Regions from separate parts of the Homo sapiens genome. Here region 1 is linked to region 2. The links come from fine-mapping of genetic effects on gene expression. A gene starts in region 2. The other region holds a variant in brackets. All regions are shown on one strand. Distances are between the middles of the regions. Region 1 has its middle 48 kb from the start of FAM161A. Region 2 holds the start of COMMD1 (copper metabolism domain containing 1).

Region 1 (5,379 bases), 99 kb after region 2:
ACTGTCTGTAAGCAGTTACTATGAAACTTTAACTATATTTCCTGTTAATAACTGAAACCTCAAAATACTTCTTTTGAAAAGATAAGGCAATTTCCTATCTCTGCCCCCTCAGAGATTGGCAGACAGCAGGTGGCCATGTCACTGCCTCACGCCATCACTGAGCTCCCTGCCATCACCTCCCAAATAAATCCTTGTACCCAATCCTGGTCTCAGGGTCAGCTTTTGGGGGACCCCAGACCAGGACACTGTTCTCTGGAATACCCAAATGTCTAGCAGCACTGGGCCCACACTTTGTGTGGCAAAAAATGGAGTCTGGCTGGACACAGTGGCTCACATCTGGAATCCCAAAACTTTGGGAGGCCAAGGCAGGAGGTTTATTTGAGGCCTGGAGTTTGAGACCAGCCTGGACAACATAGTGAGACCATGTCTCTACCAAAAATACAAAAATTAGCCAGGTGTGGTGCTGTGTGCCTGTAGTCCCAGCTACTCAGGAGGCTGAGGTGGGAGGAATGCTTGAGCCCTGGAGGTGGAGGTTGCAGTGAGCCATGATTCACGCCACTGCACTCCAGCCTGGGTGACAGGGCAAGACCTTGTCTCAACAAAAAAAAAAAAAAAAAAAAATCTGGAGTCCAGAGGCAGCTAACCCTTTCAGGGTCCCAAAATAGGCTCTGCAAAGTCCCCCACTTTGCAGAGCCTATTTTGGGATTGGCCCAGCAAGCATCTGAGCTTGTAATCCTGCACATGTAAGATACAGGCAAGAAAATGTTCTTTTTTACATTTTCAAGTAGTGAGAGAAGAGACATACAACAAACAGACATATTTTTACAATTTCAAAAGCATAGCACAATCTACGCAATGCTTATAATGGAAAAAACTAAATAAATACTTAAACAAAAAATTCCCTTCCTAAGTGCCTTTTATTTTGTGATTTATTCTTTTTCTAGGTTTTTTTTTTTCTGCCTCTTTATTTGCTCAAGTTGGGATTTCCAGAGTTTCATTTCAAGAACTAACTTGCTTTGCTTCATTTCCGTTGTCTGGGCTTTTGTTACCTGATGAGTTTGAGTGCTTTCAGGACATCTGATGCTTCAACTTCAATTAGCAAGCCCTCCTGAAAGAAAGAACACACCTTTGTCTCTTCTAAGTTAATTCTACAACCTTGCAAAATTTGATTTCCACACAAGAATGTGAAAATCATCTTAGATAATTTAGGCAGCAATTTATCTGACAAATGTGAGCTCAATTCTTTCAAATAAAAAGATGTTGAGCTGGGTGTGGTGGCTCACGCCTGTAATCCCAGCACTTTGGGAGGCTGAGGCAGGTGGATCATGAGGTCAGGAGATCAAGACCATCATGACTAACACGGTGAAACCCCGTCTCTACTAAAAATAGAAAAAATTAGCTGGGCATGGTGGCAGGTGCCTGTAGTCCCAGCTACTCGGGAGGCTGAGGCAGGAGAATGGTGTGAACCCCGGAGGCGGAGCTTGCAGTGAGCCGAGATGGCGCCACTGCACTCCAGCCTGGGCGACAGAGCCAGACTCTGTCTCAAAAAAAAAAAAAAAAAAAAAAAAAAAAAAGACGTGGAAAGCAAAATTGCTTTCATGTGAAAAAATTAGAGCTTACATGTGATTTCAACTTTTTAATATCAATTACTCATTAAATCTTTCCCTAGGTTTATCTCTAAATAAGAAAGTTTCATCTGTGTGAAAACTAAAAACTGAGAATCAGTATTAAAATTTCATGACCATTAATGCTTTATCTGATTTTAAAACATGATTAATTTTCCCTTCTCTAGGTGTTTAAAATGAATATCTCACAATGACAACGACAGAATAATAGGGGGCAAGGGCAATCACTGCCACATCTGAAGGCGGTTCATTGTAAAGTAATGCCACACTCTTAACCTGGGACTAAAAAATAATGTGAGTTTTTAAACAGAACTTCAACATGCATGTTTTTAAGTAGCGATGGCGCCCTCAAAAGAATGGTTCTAACCATCCTTCCAGATTGCAATTTCTTTCTTTCTTTTTTTTTGAGACGGATCACGGATCTTGCTCTGTCGCCCAGGCTTGAGTGCAGTAGTGCAGTCTCGGCTCACTGCATCCTCCACCTCCTAGATTCAAGCGATTCTCCTGCCTCAGCCTCCTGAATAGCTGGAATTACAGGCATGTGCCACCACACCCGGCTAATTTTTGTATTTTTAGTAGTGATGGAGTTTTGCCATGTTGCCCAGACTGGTCTTGAATTCCTGAGCTAAAATGATCATCCTGCCTTGGCTTCCCAAAGTGCTGGATTTACAGGTGTTAGCCACCACATCTGGCTGAGAACAGGTTAATTTTTAAAAAGTAACATAAGTAATTTGATAACAAGCCTAGTGAATAAGATATGTAACCAAACTAATAGTATTGGCTTAGGAAAAAAAAAACCTAGCAATAAAAGAATGAGATTGGTGTTTTTGCATTGCCCAGAACCTGCCTCTGGGTAAGTCTGTTTTGGGCACTGCAACAGATCATTGGCAGTTGCAGCTCCATGAGGGCAGGGACCTGTGCCTGGTACAGGACTGAACTGGGGTCTGCACACCTGGCTCGGTAAAGCCAAACATTCAC[T/G]CTGCAGTTTGCAATAGGAGGAAGAACGGTATTTATCTTTGCAGGGCACCAAGCAAGAAGAATCAGGCACCTCATACTTAAGACCTGACCTCCCCAATGGCTTGCAAGTAAGGGTTTTTATATTTATTTAGTTTTTGAGATGGAGTCTTGGTCTGCTGCCCAGGCTGGAGTGCAGTGGCATGATCTTGGCTCACTGCAATCTCCGTCTCCCAGGTTCAAGCAATTCTCCTTCCTCAGCCTCCCGAGTAGCTGGGATTACAGGCTCCCGCCACCAAGCCCGGCTAAATTTTGTATTTTTAGTAGACACGGGGTTTTGCCATGTTGGCCAGGCTCGTCTCGAACTCCTGACCTCAGGTGATACATCCACCTTGGCAAGAGTTTTTAAAGGCAGAGGCAGAGGTTACAGGCAAAGTCATAAATCAATACATGGAGGCTATATGCTGGTTTGACCTAAAAAGGCGGGACATCTCAAAGTGGGTGGTGGGGCATGGGGCAGGTTACAGGTCAGAGATTCAAAGATTTTCTGATTTGCAATTGGTTAAGATGGAAAAGGTTTGTCTAAAAATTTGGGGTCAGGAGAAAAGAATGTTATCTCTGGCTCATGGGCGTGACTTCCTCCAGGCCCCCCAGAAAGAACTTCAGAAAAAAAAAATGGCAGTCAGAGTTGAGTCCTCAGTTCCCCCTAACCTGAGGTCTAGGTGCCAGTGGATTCATTTGCTGGGCATCCATGTTTCTGAAAAACAACTCAGGGATCTGTTAGGAGGTTATCTTTAGTTTCTCTCGCTCCCTCCCTCCCTCCCTTCTTCCTTGCTTCCTTCTTTCTTTCTCTTTCTCTTTCTTTCTTTCTTTCTTTCTTTCTTTCTTTCTTTCTTTCTTTCTTTCTCTTTCTTTTTCTTTCTTTCTTTTCCTTTCTTTCTTTCCTTCTTTCTTTCTTTCTCTTTCTCTCTCTCTCTCTTTCTTCTCTCTTTCAGCAGAGTCTCACTCTTTCGCCCAGGCTGGAGTGCAGTGTTGCAATGTTGGCTCACTGCAATCTCCACCTCCCAGGTTCAGACAATTCTCCTGCCTCAGCCTCCCATGTAGTTGGGATTACAGGTGCACACCAGCACGCTCGGCTAAATTTTGTATTTTTAGTAGAGACGGGGTTTCACCGTGTTGACCAGGCTGGTCTCAAACTCCTGACCTCAGGTGATCCACCCACCGTGACCTCCCAACATGCTGGTGTCAGAGGGGTGTGAAACCAGAGCAACTCCATCTTGAAAAGGAGCTGGGAGAAATTAGGCTGAGACCTACTGGGCTGTATTCCCAGACGGTTAAGGCATTCTCTAAGTCACAGGATGAGATACAAGGTCAGCACAAGATACACAGGTCATAAAGACCTTGCTGATAAAACAGGTTGCAGTAAAGAAGTCGGCTAAAACCCACCAAAACCAAGATGGCCACGAGAGTAACCTCTGGCCGTCCTCACTGCTACACTCCCACCAGTGCCATGACAGTTTACAAATGCCATGGCAACGTCAGGAAGTTACCCTATATGGTCTAAAATGGGGAGGCATGAATAATCCACCCCTTGTTTAGAATATTATCAAGAAATAACCATTAAAATGGGCAACCAGCAGCCGTTGGAGCTCCTCTGTCTATGGAGTAGCCGTTCTTTTATTCCTTTACTTTCCTAATAAACTTGCTTTTGCTTTGCACTGTAGACTTGCCCTGAATTCTTTCTTGGGCAAGATCTAAGAACACTCTCTTGGGGTCTGGATGGGAACCCCTTTCCTGTAACATTGAGATTACAGGCATGAGCCACCACGCCCAGCCTCTTTTTATTTATTTATTTATTTTTTCGAGACAGAGTCTTTCTCTGTGCCCAGGCTGGAGTACAATGGTGCGATCTCAGCTCACTGCAACCTCCATGTCCCGAGTTCACACCATTCTCCTGCCTCAGCTTCCTGAGAAGTTGGAATTACAGGCAAGTGTCACCATGCCCAGCTAATTTTTATATTTTTAGTAGAGGTGGGGTTTCACCATGTTGGCCAGGCTGATCTTGAACTCCTGACCTTGTGATCCACCTGCCTTGGCCTCCCAAAGTGCTGGGATTACAGGCGTAAGCCACTGCGCCCGGCCTTATTAATCTTATTGTGAAAAATCCTCAATGGCCGCAGATAACATCCTTGCAATATCTTTACTCCTTCGGCTTTTTGCCAGCACCAACACTGGCCTTTGCAGTACCCCTGACTTTCTCCATTCTGTTCTTGCATTCCTTTTGTTGCTTTCTTGAGGTCTTTTTCTTCTCATACAGGCCATGTCTTGCAAGTCTATGTTTGGTATGTTTGGGTTCATTTTACTTTACATAATCCAAGGAATCATAAATCATGCCAAAGCCACCACCAGCATGAGTTCTGAATGCAAATACAAAGATGACATCCAGTGTGGTCTTATACATTTTGGCTAGTTTTTTCTGAATTTCTGTCTTAGGCACTGTTGCCTTCCCGGGATGAAGGACATCAATGAGCATCTGTTTCCTCTGAAGTAGTCATGAACTTTCTAGTTAGGATAGTTACTGTGTCCTATCCTATGTGTTAGGATAGTTCATGATGGTGGCCTACCCTCAGACAGCCAGGGAGGAGAAGAGTTATCTTTAGTTTCTATAGAGAACAAAACATCCCAGAATTCGAACTTTCTTGGCTATTGTTTTAAGCTACTATTACCTTCTTGCTAATCAAGTTGCTGGTTTACTTCTCAGGGCTAACTAGGTGCCTGGAATTTCCCCTGCAATAACTAA
Region 2 (5,352 bases):
AATCAAAATGTCGTCCACCTAGAGAGGAGAAGTAGCCCCCAATGTTTGGAGATTCTAAAGCATTACCTACACATGTGCTGTTGTCTCTTCTTAGCCTGCAGAAGAGATATAGGCCTCATCCCCATAGGAGACCAAACACCTCAAAAACCCAGATGTCAAATTTTCTAGGAAACTCTCTTGGACTGCTCAAAGAGTAAAATTTGATAGAAATAGGAAGCATTTGGCCGGGCCGGGTGGCTCACGCCTGTAATCCTGGCACTCCGGGAGGCCGAGGCAGGCGGATAACGAAGTCAGGAGATCAAAACCATCCTGGCCAACATAGTGAAACCCAGTCTCTACTAAAAATACAAAAATTAGCTGGGTGTGGTGGCGCATGCCTGTAACCCCAGCTACTCGGGAGGCTGAGGCAGGAGAATGGCTCGAACCCCAGGAGGTGGAGATTGCAGTGAGCCGAGATCGGGCCACTGCACTCCAGCCTGGCAACAAAGCAAAACTCGTCTCAAAAAAAGAAAAAACAAAAGAAATAGAAAGCATTCACTAGTGATTTATGACTGATATCAACTAAGATTACTTAGAATGTCTAGGATCACACCTGAGATATTACTCCTTACATTTCCATGAGACAATCCATTTACTGTGTGAAATATTTGTTTTCATTTGCTTTTTTTCTGGATTCAAATCCTGTAGGCAAAATCAGTTTAAAAAAATACAGAAGTGCCTTTTAAAGAATAAACAGCTTTGAAAAAATAGCAAATTCAAAAGGATAGTGGATTAAATTTCAACACTGACTTTAATCAAAATGAATTTTAGGCTGTTTAGATTCCCTGGACCTGTTTCTTAAATCTTTACCATGGGTGTCCACTATATAAGGTTTTTTTTTCAAGAAACAAATGAAACAACATGTAAAACATCTCAGTACGTTCCTAACACATAGGAGACCTATAAAAGTCAGTAATTTTTTTACAGTTTGTCTCTAGAGTACATTGACACTACATTCCTATAACTAGTTCTCGGTCTAAATAGAGTTGTCCAATATGATGGTTATTAGCCATATGTGACTACTGAGCACTTAAATTTGGCAAGTCCGAGATATGTGCTTTAAGTGTAAAATACTGGATTTCGAAGATTTAGTGAAAAAAGTAACAAAAAATCTTGTCAATATTCTGTATATTGATTACATGTGAAGTGATAATACTTTGGCTATTCTGGATTAAATAAGATATATTACTAAAATATTAATTTCACCTTTTTGGCTCACATATTTCTATTGGACGATCTAGTCTATACTTTGACTTCAAGCTGGTAATTATGCTCTTTTAACCACGCAGTGGACTGCTTGACAGATGTCACTCGGGCTAAGCCACCCCTTATCCAGCAGACACTGGCTCATTTTAACGCTCCCAACTTCCACAACCGGGGAAAGCTAGCGACCTAAAACTCTTAATTTTAAAAACACCAGATCCCACAGATCTGCTGAGGAAACGCGACTGTTACCAAGAGACAGAAATGTCTTGAAGGAAAAACCCCTGTGGGTGTCAGTCTACCGGGGGACTGGGAACTTCAGCAGAAAAAGTCCCCCTTAGGAAAGAGAGAAGGGGCGACAGAACGAGCAAATCTGAAGGAGCCCGATGTGGAGCCCACGGAGTGGAGGTCTGAGAGGGAAAAGCCTTTCGGCTTGTGAGGACAGGGGAAGGCAAGGGGGGGAGAGTCTGAAGCCAGCGGCCAAGGGGTTCTGCTCCAAGCCGGAGACTACAGAAAAGAGCAGTACCTTAAGAATCCCCCTCATCTTTGCCAGAAAGGGGCGGAACTCCTCGGGTGGCACCTCTGGATATAGCTGGCTCCGTAGCAGCTCCTCTGTGATGCCGGGGTACCCGTGGAAAGTGTCCTGGGCCAGCGCATTCAGCAGCCCGCTCAGGGGTTTGCCACCCTCAAGCTCGCCCGCCGCCATGCTCTGCGAAGGCCCCGCCCCGCAACAGCTGAGCCGTGCCCCGCCACGGCGGCCGAGATGTGCCTAAATAGCCTGTGCAAAACCACCACGGGGAACCTCGGGGAACCTGGAGGCAAGGCTTCCCCAGGGGTCAGAGTTGGCAGCTTACAGCTTTGCTCTGCAACACCCATCCCCTTAGGATACCTCCACGGAAATATCCGTTTGGTTCCAGTAGGGTCACTTTGCTTCCCCTGATCCCCTTCATCACTGCAGAGCCTACTGGAAAGAAAGATTGCTCGCAGAGATTACTGGAGATGGGGTAGCAGCCTATAAGTTTGGCAGTTTAATTTTTAGATGGCTGTATCTCATTCCAGGACTTGCCAACCCATTAACTGAATAGGATCGATCACTCAGATTTAATCTCTGCCTAATCCTTACCTGTCATCCTTTTTTTCAGGAAGTTTAACTATCTCCTGATTACATAATGTTTTTCTTTGGGTTGTTAATTGCCTTTTTATATACACTTGTCTTTCCAGCTAGATCAGTGGCTCTGATCCAATGTTCTTTTATATGACAAATATTTTAACACCTTATTTACTATCCTGAAATGAAATGCATAGCTAATATAACTTCCCACCCATATAATTTTTTAAAATCAATATATTATTCAGCCATAAAATGGAATAAAGTACTGATACATGCTACAACGTGAATGAGACTTAAAAACAGGATTAGTAAAAGAAGCCAGATATAAAAGGCCAAATATTGGACATCCATTTATATGAAATGTCCAGGATAGACAAATCCATGGAGACTGAAAGTAATGTAATAGTTGGCAGAATCTGGAGAAGGGGACGAATGGGTAGTGACTGTTTATAGGTACAGAGTTTCTTTGGGGCATGATGAAAACATTCCGGAAGTGGAAGCACAACCTTGTTAATATACTAAAACCCACTGAATTGTACACTTTAAAAGATTAGTTTCACAGTATGTGAATATCTCAATTGAAAAATCAATTTAATGACCTAATTGTAATTTATCATAAAATGAAAAGGAATTTATAATATAATATGTGTGTTTGGGTACACCTATACTAGTTGACTAAAAGACATACAAAGTAGCCAGATGTCTGCATCTTTACATCTTTATGTAGAACCACCTGTGACTTCTACAAATGCAAATTGATACAGGTGTGTGGTATTGGTGACTCCAGAGGGAGGGCAGTTGCTTCTGGTAACATGATGTTCTGAAATGTTAAGAACTGATGTTCTGAAATGTGAACAACAGTTGGTAAAGTTTACAACAAAAAACACTCTTTCCTCACTCTACAGTCATTGCAAAGCTGGAATATTCTGTATATATTAATGCTAAACTAAAAATACATTGTGTTGCCGGGCACGGTGGCTCACGCCTCTAATCCCAGCACTTTGGAAGGCCGAGGCAGACGGATCACGAGGTCAGGAGATCAAGACCATCCTGGCTAACACGGTGAAACCCCATCTCTACTAAAAATACAAAAAAATTAGCCGGGCCTAGTGGCGGGCGCCTGTAGTCCCAGCTACTCGGGAGGCTGGGGCAGGAGAATGGCATGAACCTGGGAGGTGGAGCTTGCAGTGAGCCGAGATCACGCCACTGCACTCTGTCGCCTGGGTGAAAGAGGGAGACTCCGTCTCAAAAAAATAAAATAATAATAATAATACATTGTGTTTCTATATAAAATAGAGTTTGACTTTAGGCTTAGATAATAACAAACAGGTTTTTCACCTTTATGAACGTACCCTGCATGGGAAGATGTCTTATATATCTGACCTCTCTCCCACCTATTCCATTCCTACCCTTCCTTCAAAGTGACAACTGAGGTCGGGCATGGTGGCTCACGCCTGTAACCCCAGCACTTTGGGAGGCTGAGGTGGGTGGATCACCTGAGGTCAGGAGATCGAGACCAGCCTGGCCAACATGGTGAAACTGAAAATACAAAAATTAGCCAGGCATGGTAGCACATGTCTGTAGTCCCAGCTACTCGGGAGGCTGAGGCAGGAGAATTGCTTGAACTCAGGAAGCAGAGGCTGCAGTGAGCAGAGATGGTGCCACTGCACTCTAGCCTTGGGGACAAGAGCAAAACTTCATCTCAAAAAAAAAAAAAAGTGACAACTGAAATGCCCCTTTCAAGGCAGTGCCACATTGTTGAGAATCTACTCATCTAGACTACTTTAATTAATGTTTATCCAGTAAAGAGGTATTCTTTTTTTTTTTTTTGAGACAAAGTTTTACTCTGTTGCCCAGGCTGGAGTGCAGTGGCACAATCTCGGTTCACTGCAACATCCACCTCCCAAGTTCAAGTGATTCTCCTGCCTCAGCCTCCCAAGTAGCTGGGATTATAGGCATGCGCCACCACGCCCAGCTAATTTTTGTATTTTTTGTAGAGAAGGGGTTTCACCATGTTGGCCAGGCTGGTCTCAAACTCCTGACCTCAGGTGATCCACCCACCTCAGCCTCCCAAAGTGCTGGGATTACAGGTGTGAGCCACTGTACCTGGCCAGAGGCATTTTTTACAATAGAAAAAATATATTTCTTTTCCTAAAATAATTTTATAAAAGGCAAATTCAGAGTTGCTTCCATGGCTCCAAGTAAACCAAACTTAGTGACAAACTATAGATTGTTTTACATGTACTTACAGAAGTTGCAGAGAATGGTTGGTGAAAAAGAAAAAGCATAAATCAAAAGGTGGCAAGCAGAAAAAGCACTATTAAACACGTAATTTACAAATTACCCACCAGAAAGGCTGCACCTATTTCTATGAAACCTTAGTAACACTGACTGATATTATTCTTTTAATTTCATTTAATTTAATTTTTGAGACAGAGTCTCACTCTGTTGCCCAGGCTGGAGTGCAGTGGCACGATGTTGGCTCACTGCAGTCTCGACCTCCCAGGCCCAAGTTATCCTCCGATCTCAGGCTAAGTAGCTGGGAATATGAGCACACACTACCGTACCCAGCTATATTATTCTTTATAACCTTTGCCATATGATACATGAAAAATATTATCTCACTGTTTTAATTCGCATTTCTTAAATTTTGAGAGTAAATTTTTTTTACTATATTTATTGGCTGCTTATATTTCTTCCTATTTCCTTGTCCATTTTCTATAGGGGTTTCTGTCACTTCAGTGATTTCTTTTCTTTTTTTTTAAGGTGGAGTTTCGCTCTTGTCGCCCAGGCTGGATGGAGTGCAATGGCATGATCTCGGCTCACCACAACCTCCGCCTCCCGGGTTCAAACGATTCTCCTGCCTCAGGCTCCCAAGTAGCTGGGACTACAGGCGTGCGCCACCACACCTGGCTAATTTTTGTATTTTTAGTAGAGACAAGGTTTCACCATCTTGGGCACGCTGGTCTCGAACTCCCGACCTCGTGATCCACCTGCCT

The links. PIP is the estimated chance that this variant, and not a neighbour inherited with it, causes the effect.
Region 1: its variant is fine-mapped to the expression of COMMD1 in whole blood (INTERVAL, PIP above 0.99).

Annotation. Positions count from the first base shown.
Region 1 is chr2:61,802,876-61,808,254 of GRCh38, reverse strand. It overlaps a transcript of FAM161A not described here and the pseudogene RPS24P7. Among named protein-coding and RNA genes, the nearest start is that of FAM161A, 48 kb to the left of the region's middle. The variant T/G (reference allele first, on the strand shown) is at 2,604.
Region 2 is chr2:61,902,275-61,907,626 of GRCh38, reverse strand. It overlaps COMMD1 (copper metabolism domain containing 1), which reads right to left and starts at 1,953. Exons shown (of 3, transcript NM_152516.4): 1 at 1,769-1,953. The coding sequence starts at 1,948. RefSeq lists an enhancer at 1,702-1,891.